Regions from separate parts of the Homo sapiens genome. Here all the other regions are linked to region 3. The links come from fine-mapping of genetic effects on plasma protein levels. A gene starts in region 3. Each other region holds a variant in brackets. All regions are shown on one strand. Distances are from middle to middle. Region 1 overlaps DPP4 (dipeptidyl peptidase 4). Region 2 has its middle 6.5 kb from the start of SLC4A10. Region 3 holds the start of DPP4 (dipeptidyl peptidase 4).

What was found. PIP is the posterior inclusion probability: the model's chance that the variant is causal. The UK Biobank Pharma Proteomics Project read protein levels with antibody pairs (Olink). The fine-mapping took linkage between variants from a reference panel, not from the people measured, so its PIPs are less certain.
Region 1: its variant is fine-mapped to the plasma level of the DPP4 protein (UK Biobank, PIP above 0.99). The variant lies in the coding sequence of DPP4. If it changes the protein, the assay may bind it differently, which can mimic a change of level.
Region 2: its variant is fine-mapped to the plasma level of the DPP4 protein (UK Biobank, PIP 0.99).

The regions. Positions count from the first base shown.
Region 1 is chr2:161,991,582-161,994,304 of GRCh38, reverse strand. It overlaps DPP4 (dipeptidyl peptidase 4), which reads left to right. Exons shown (of 26, transcript NM_001935.4): 26 at 921-2,060. The coding sequence ends at 1,022. Among named protein-coding and RNA genes, the nearest start is that of DPP4, 81 kb to the left of the region's middle. The variant G/C (reference allele first, on the strand shown) is at 1,006.
Region 2 is chr2:161,616,548-161,619,311 of GRCh38, reverse strand. No RefSeq gene overlaps it. Among named protein-coding and RNA genes, the nearest start is that of SLC4A10, 6.5 kb to the left of the region's middle. The variant G/T (reference allele first, on the strand shown) is at 1,460.
Region 3 is chr2:162,073,176-162,075,933 of GRCh38, reverse strand. DPP4 (dipeptidyl peptidase 4) reads left to right here and starts at 1,719. Exons shown (of 26, transcript NM_001935.4): 1 at 1,719-1,958; 2 at 2,448-2,535. The coding sequence starts at 1,953. It overlaps DPP4-DT (DPP4 divergent transcript), which reads right to left and starts at 1,077. Exons shown (of 3, transcript NR_147697.1): 1 at 999-1,077; 2 at 323-456. RefSeq lists a promoter at 1-1,314, enhancers at 869-1,566, 2,001-2,200 and a silencer at 1,591-1,850.

The sequences.
Region 1 (2,723 bases), 82 kb after region 3:
CTAACACACATGATTTGCTCTGTGCTCAGTTCAAATGGTGCCCAATGCACAGGAGTGGGACAGTTACTTGATACTGAGAAAAACTGGCTATCTTTTGGGTCAGTGTTTTATAAGAGGTTGAAGTTTATTTTTCTACTATTCAAAGAAAAGACAAATGCTACTTTAATTAAGCTTTTTTTAAAGTTAACTTATGTCTCCATAATTTATGTTTGCCCGGTAATGACTTCCCAATTATTTAACAAGGTATGAATCAATAAATTTTTGTCCCAGATCATTAATTCCTTTTACATAAATGTCAAATACACAGATTTCTTAAAATACCAGTTTAAAATCTAAGTGTTTACAAATAATACATCTGATTTTTGACTTCACTTCTATTAAACATATATATGTAATATTGAAATAGAGTTTTTCCAGTTTCTAGGTGCTATATATTAGGCAATATTGCTTTAAAAAAAATCATTTAGTTTAATACAGTTTATCTTACTAGAGTACAGAGAAATTTAACACTTGATAACAGTTTAATTAAAACAAGTGGGCTTAATGGGATAATCATTCCTTCCCATGCATGCTGTGTAAGCGCCCTTTGAGTCAAATTTGGAAATGGATTGGGTGTTTTAATTAAAATGTACGTATCTTTAAAGCACTATTCAATAAAGCCAAATTCACAGTGAGTTCTCTCAGCACCTGCAAAAGAGGATCAGAGACTTCTGCAGGACAGAACAACGTGCCCTGGAAAAGCTCTGGGGGAAAATTAGACCCCCTCTTTGACCCCGTTTCAGTTTATAAACTGCCTCAGGAATTAAAACACTCTGTTTTATACCATGTATGCTCGTGAGAGCTCATTTGAATTTACGTATTTTTTTTTTTAAGAAGAGTACTGACTTCCTAATTCTAACTTCTTTTCTTTCTCTCTCTAGTGGTATACTGATGAAGACCATGGAATAGCTAGCAGCACAGCACACCAACATATATATACCCACATGAGCCACTTCATAAAACAAT[G/C]TTTCTCTTTACCTTAGCACCTCAAAATACCATGCCATTTAAAGCTTATTAAAACTCATTTTTGTTTTCATTATCTCAAAACTGCACTGTCAAGATGATGATGATCTTTAAAATACACACTCAAATCAAGAAACTTAAGGTTACCTTTGTTCCCAAATTTCATACCTATCATCTTAAGTAGGGACTTCTGTCTTCACAACAGATTATTACCTTACAGAAGTTTGAATTATCCGGTCGGGTTTTATTGTTTAAAATCATTTCTGCATCAGCTGCTGAAACAACAAATAGGAATTGTTTTTATGGAGGCTTTGCATAGATTCCCTGAGCAGGATTTTAATCTTTTTCTAACTGGACTGGTTCAAATGTTGTTCTCTTCTTTAAAGGGATGGCAAGATGTGGGCAGTGATGTCACTAGGGCAGGGACAGGATAAGAGGGATTAGGGAGAGAAGATAGCAGGGCATGGCTGGGAACCCAAGTCCAAGCATACCAACACGAGCAGGCTACTGTCAGCTCCCCTCGGAGAAGAGCTGTTCACAGCCAGACTGGCACAGTTTTCTGAGAAAGACTATTCAAACAGTCTCAGGAAATCAAATATGCAAAGCACTGACTTCTAAGTAAAACCACAGCAGTTGAAAAGACTCCAAAGAAATGTAAGGGAAACTGCCAGCAACGCAGGCCCCCAGGTGCCAGTTATGGCTATAGGTGCTACAAAAACACAGCAAGGGTGATGGGAAAGCATTGTAAATGTGCTTTTAAAAAAAAATACTGATGTTCCTAGTGAAAGAGGCAGCTTGAAACTGAGATGTGAACACATCAGCTTGCCCTGTTAAAAGATGAAAATATTTGTATCACAAATCTTAACTTGAAGGAGTCCTTGCATCAATTTTTCTTATTTCATTTCTTTGAGTGTCTTAATTAAAAGAATATTTTAACTTCCTTGGACTCATTTTAAAAAATGGAACATAAAATACAATGTTATGTATTATTATTCCCATTCTACATACTATGGAATTTCTCCCAGTCATTTAATAAATGTGCCTTCATTTTTTCAGAAGTAATGACTTGTGTCTTGAATAAGACCTAAACCGCACTGGCATATGGACACATTTATCTAGAAAGGCTCTTGTTTATTTTGTTAGTAATCCCAGACTACCTTGTAAACATGGAAAGAGTTCAGCTTTGGTAAAAAAATTAGATATATAAAAATGTGTTAAGCTAAACAGTTCATAGGTTTTTGCCTAATAATGTGCAATTTCTCTTATCATAAATACATACAGCTTTTGAGAAATCAACTTAAACTAATTTTAGTTACTTATATCATACACAATTTATAATTTTATTCCAGGGAACTATGATGAGGCTTATATAAGAACGAATAAGATCAGAAATATCATTCTGGCAGTTCTTATGGCTCAGTAGAAGTAGTCAATTATTTAAGTGGTTGACTATTTGTGGTTGACATTACTATAAAAATGAAAGTGGCCAGGCATGGTGGCTCACGCCTGTAATCTCAGCCCTTTGGGAGGCTGAGGCAGGCAGATCACGAGGTCAGGAGATCGAGATCATCCTGGCTAACACAGTGAAACCCCATCTCTACTAAAAATACAAAAAATTAGCTAGGCATCGTGGCGGGCGCCTGTAGTCCCACCTACTGGGGACACTGAGGCAGGAGAATGGTGTGAACCCGGGAGGCGGAAGTTGCAGTGAGCCGAGATCA
Region 2 (2,764 bases), 460 kb after region 3:
AGGTGATTATTTCAATGTACTGTGGTGATAAGACAATGAGCTGTCCAAAATATTAAAGGAGTATCAAATAGGGACATAATCCCAACTAATGAGTTTGTAAATCAGGGAGATGAAACATAAACTAAAGGATGAGTAATGGCAAACCCAAGTGAAAAAGCCCTTTCATTATGGAAACTTTTCAAAATTCAGAGCAGTATAAAGATGCAAATGACAGTCATTCATAATCCCACCAACCAGAGATGGTCACTGTTAACATTTCAGCATGTTTCATTATAGACTTCTTTTAACAATTCTGGGAGTGGGGAATGATATTCTTTTATATTTATTATTTCCATCACATTTAAAGCAATGGAATTATGTTGCATATAGGAAATGAAAGTCCTTACTAGAAAAATATGATACCCAAATAACCTCTTAGATTTGATCCTTTATTACTATACGAATATGTCTATCCTACTTCTCCCAGCCTGCATCAGGAATGAGAGAAACTTTCAAACCCTCTAATCAGGAATGGGACACAAGTTGTCTTTTCTTTCAAATTCTGTAAACCTAACTGAATTACCTGTTATTTTCTCTCTTCCAAAACCCAAACTAGGGCTCAGTTAGTGGAAAAAGCACATAGCCCTTTCTTAAGGTTACACATTGACACATGAAGTTCTTACTACTTCCAATTCTTCCTTTCCTCCATTCTGGAGAATCTTTTGATATGGACAGCCTGGCTCTTCATCTTTTCTCACAATGCTATCATTTGGAAACTGTGTCCAACTAGATTAAGGCTTCTGAAACTTAAAGCCAGATTGTCTGCTGCATCCATTCAGGATGGATACATCCTGAAATATGAAAAACCAATGACTAAATGAAGAAATACAAGGCACTTAAATAAATGTATGGGGAAACTTAATTAAGATTTTAAAAATATTATCTTAATTCAATATTAATAAAATAGTAAAAAACAAAATAACTGAAATTTGCTTTTATTTCTCTGAGAAAATTGATTTCCATATGTGTTTGAATTAAATGATACTTTTCAGAAACATAATCTCATACATCCAGGAAGATGCACAAAAACTTGTTTATTCATTTGATATATATTTACTGAATACCTCCTATGGGCTCAGTACTATGCAAGGCACTAGAAAGGCAAAGTCCCTGCCCCAGGGATCTGATAGTCTGGAAGGGAGACAAACAATCAGACATGTCCAAGACATATACCTTAAATATGACAGGTATGTGACAGAAATAGAAGGGGCACCTGTTCCAGACTAGGGTGGAGGTATAAAGATATAAAATGGATTATAGGGAAGAATAAAAGTATTCCAGAAAGGAAGAATAGCATGTTCAAGAACTATAAAAAGTTGTCTGTAACTGAAACACTGGATATATCAAAGGATGTGGCAGGAAAGAAGGATGAACATGAGGGCAAGGACCAGATTACAAAATTCCGTATTTGCCATACTCA[G/T]GAGATTGGTTTTATTTTATAGGGGATATTAGAGAAGACTTCCCAATGGACATCATATCTGAGATAAACTTTAAAACATACAGAAGAGTTTATCAGAATAACCTGAGGTGTTTTAGAATAACCTTAGATGCTTCTGAAAATTTTTTATTCCTAGGTCCCATATCCAAAGATCCTAACCTAGTAAATTGGGGTGAGGATAAGGATTCTGTATTTTTCACAAGATATTCTGATAGAAGTGCCTATGCATCACCTATTCCAAATTTGATATACATATTTTCCATTCTCTAACTACAACTCTTCCTCAAAAGAAAAACACACACACTTGGCTTAAATATTTACAATTATTTAGAAGAAAACATGTAACACTATATTAGGATTATTAGGACAATGTGCCATCCACTGTTTAAAAATGAAACCTACCATTTACTTAGTGTTTATTACATGTCAGGTATGTGCCAAATCTTTTATATAATTATTTAATTTACCACTCATATCAACCCTGAGAAGTATGCATTTTACCTCCATTTATATATGAAGAAACTGAAGCTGAGTGAAGTTAAATAACTTGCTGAACTTCACACAGCTATAAGCAGCAGAAATCCCAACCCAGGCTATCTGCCTCCAACGCACTTACTTTTTGCATCATGCTATAACTGATCTCTAACTTGTAAAGGTTGCCAGTGAAATGTTTTCTCCAATTCTAATTACCACAAAGAAGAATAAGAACACCAGATCCAAACTCAGTGTTGGTACTATGGCCAGACATTTTTAAAAGAATGAAACTTGTCAAGCCAGAAATAAAGTATTTCTATCAACAATGATTCATGTAAATGCTGCCTCATGTTTAGGCTTCTTCCAGCTCATTCAGAAAACACTGAGGAAGATGCATAGGATCCCATTTCTTAACAGAAAATAATTGGGCTGATAACTACTGTGTCAGGGTGAGAAATCCTACGGTGGTAATCTCCTGAGCCAGGTGGTTTTAGTCTTTCTTTGGCCAAATAAGACATAACACTGCTTTCTCCAAGTCTGCCACTGTCTCTCCTTCAGAGAAGACAATTCACAAAATTCCAATAAACTCTGACTTAGTGTAAAAGATAGTACTTGGAAGTGGAAAAAGACAAACATTTATTTAATAGTTCATATGATAACTACTGTAATAAATGTATAAAATGGATTATAGGGAAGAATAGAAGTATTCCGGAAAGGAAGAATAGCTTGCTCAAGAACTATAAAAAGTTGTCTATAACTGAAACACTGGATATATCAAAGGATGTGGCAGGAATGAAGGATGAACATGAGGGC
Region 3 (2,758 bases):
ACTCATCAGTGGTGGCTAATGTGTTGGCCAGCTGCTACCTTAAGGATTTGGAAAAAACAAGATTGAAAGACTGGTGACACAGAGGTCAAGGTGGGGGAGGCATGTGAGAGAGTCTCTTGAAATGGGCACAGGGTGTGAAGATATTTGCGTCTCATGGAGTGCCCTCCAGAGAACAAATTGACCTGTCCCGTAGATGTCAGCCAGCCTCCTGCCAGCTTCCTTGGGGCTTGCTGAATGTACAATGAGTGCCATGGTGCTGGCATGGAGATGAAGCACAGGCTTAACTCTCCAGACTTCCTTCACCGAGGCTGATGTGGCTTACCAATGCTGAGTGAGCAAAATGCTGAGAGTGAAGGGCAGCACTGAGCCCCCTGTGGCACCATTCCCCGTAGTCCGTGTTAAATGGCCTCTCTTCACAGCATCAGTTCACAGGGTCCAGTAACACCATTGACTCATCTTCCTCAGCAGTTGGAAGAGGGAGGAGGAGAGTTAGTTTCAGCCTCTGGAGTTGGGGGTGAGTGAGGATACTGATGTATCACAAGCAACTAGTGGGCAAGGGGGAAAAGATGACTGAGTTCAAAAGCAATGCCTGGATTGGAAATAAAAGATGGAAAATTGCATTAATTCATAATCATGTGGTAATGCCCCATCGGACTCTGCATTCTTAATCTTTTACCTCTACTGACAGAGAGGCTTTGCTTTTCAGCTGCTGTGAACAAGCTGAAGAGGCCTTATCCTCTTATCTGCAAGAGTGGAAGTAATCACAGGGGGCCCTAAAGGCAAATGTTTACCTGTGTATTTTATCGTGAAAGTGCCAAGGGTCCAGACCTCACCTCTCTTGTCCCACTTTATCTCCAGTACCTAGAAGGGAGGCTGGCACATTGTAACCACTCAAACATCTGTGGATGACTGGAATAAATGGGAGGATGTAGGAATGAATGAACGAATGAATAATCCTTTAGGGAACAATAGAGAGCTGGGGGAGGGAGAAGCCATACCTGATCTTTTATTCTTCTCCAAAACCCTTGAAAAGACTATGAGAGGCCGCATAGAGTAGCCATTAAGACCTTGAACTCTTAATTTAGGATCTACAACTTCCTAGCTGAATGGCTTGGCCAAGTTATTTATTCTCTGTGTACAGTCTTCCTTCCTGTAAAACAAACACAGTAAATGCTTAGAGCAGCACCTGGGAAAAAGTCAAGTTCCACATAAGTGTTACTGTCATTATTTTTGTCATCTTGATGAGTGTGTAAGCCTGCAAGACAATCGGGAAATTCCCTAGGGAGGGTGAATCCAGATACTCAGCTTCCAAGGGCCATTCAAGAGGGAACAATCACCTTTTCTCTTTGCCTTTCATACTGCTTTAGACCCCTCACTGCTTCCTAACATAACTTTCACTGGCAAGAGACGGAGTCCTGGGTTTCAGTTCCAGTTGCCTGCGGTGGGCTGTGTGAGTTTGCCAAAGTCCCCTGCCCTCTCTGGGTCTCGGTTCCCTCGCCTGTCCACGTGAGGTTGGAGGAGCTGAACGCCGACGTCATTTTTAGCTAAGAGGGAGCAGGGTCCCCGAGTCGCCGGCCCAGGGTCTGCGCATCCGAGGCCGCGCGCCCTTTCCCCTCCCCCACGGCTCCTCCGGGCCCCGCACTCTGCGCCCCGGCTGCCGCCCAGCGCCCTACACCGCCCTCAGGGGGCCCTCGCGGGCTCCCCCCGGCCGGGATGCCAGTGCCCCGCGCCACGCGCGCCTGCTCCCGCGCCGCCTGCCCTGCAGCCTGCCCGCGGCGCCTTTATACCCAGCGGGCTCGGCGCTCACTAATGTTTAACTCGGGGCCGAAACTTGCCAGCGGCGAGTGACTCCACCGCCCGGAGCAGCGGTGCAGGACGCGCGTCTCCGCCGCCCGCGGTGACTTCTGCCTGCGCTCCTTCTCTGAACGCTCACTTCCGAGGAGACGCCGACGATGAAGGTGAGTGCCGCGCCACGTACGTCCCCGGGGCGAGCTGTGGGGACCTCTTCGCCAAACTCCCCAAATGGCCCAAAAGCTGGCGAAACCGGACCAGGGACTCCCCTTAGGCGGAAGCCCCAAGGCCACCCTCTGACAGGTGAAGGGACGTCCCAGAGCTCTCGCTTAGCTTTCGGACCCTGGCTTCTGCTAGGACCCTGGCGTCGAGCTTTGAATGTCCCGGAGAGCCACTCACAGAACGCACGCCCGAACCCGGGCAGGGGTAGAGAAACCAACGCTAATGTGCTCTGAAGGCACAAGTTCAAGGGCACCCGCCTTAGAGAACTCCAACTGGCGCACTCCAGACGCCACCCCCACCCCCAGCCCGCGGTCTCCCTCTTCTAACGCACTCCCACCTGCAAATCCTGCTGCCTCTGGAGCAGCCCCGACCCTCCTACGGAAACTGGGGCCACACGCTTCCCTCTAATTGGACTTGATCTGCTCGGCTTGCAGACACCGTGGAAGGTTCTTCTGGGACTGCTGGGTGCTGCTGCGCTTGTCACCATCATCACCGTGCCCGTGGTTCTGCTGAACAAAGGCAGTAAGTTTGAAACATTTGAAAAAGATAGGACAGTTGGAGCTCAGGTCAGGCTCCGTCTTACCACGCTAAGGGAAACGAGGGATTTTGCGTGGGGTTGGACCAGTGCCCCGAAGTGTAGCTGAGAAGGCTTCCCAGTTGTTGTTGCTGCTTGTAGAGCAGCAGCTGGATTCACTTCGCGGGGTCTTCAGTGTTTAGGCTGAAACTCTTGCGGCTTTCACGTCTT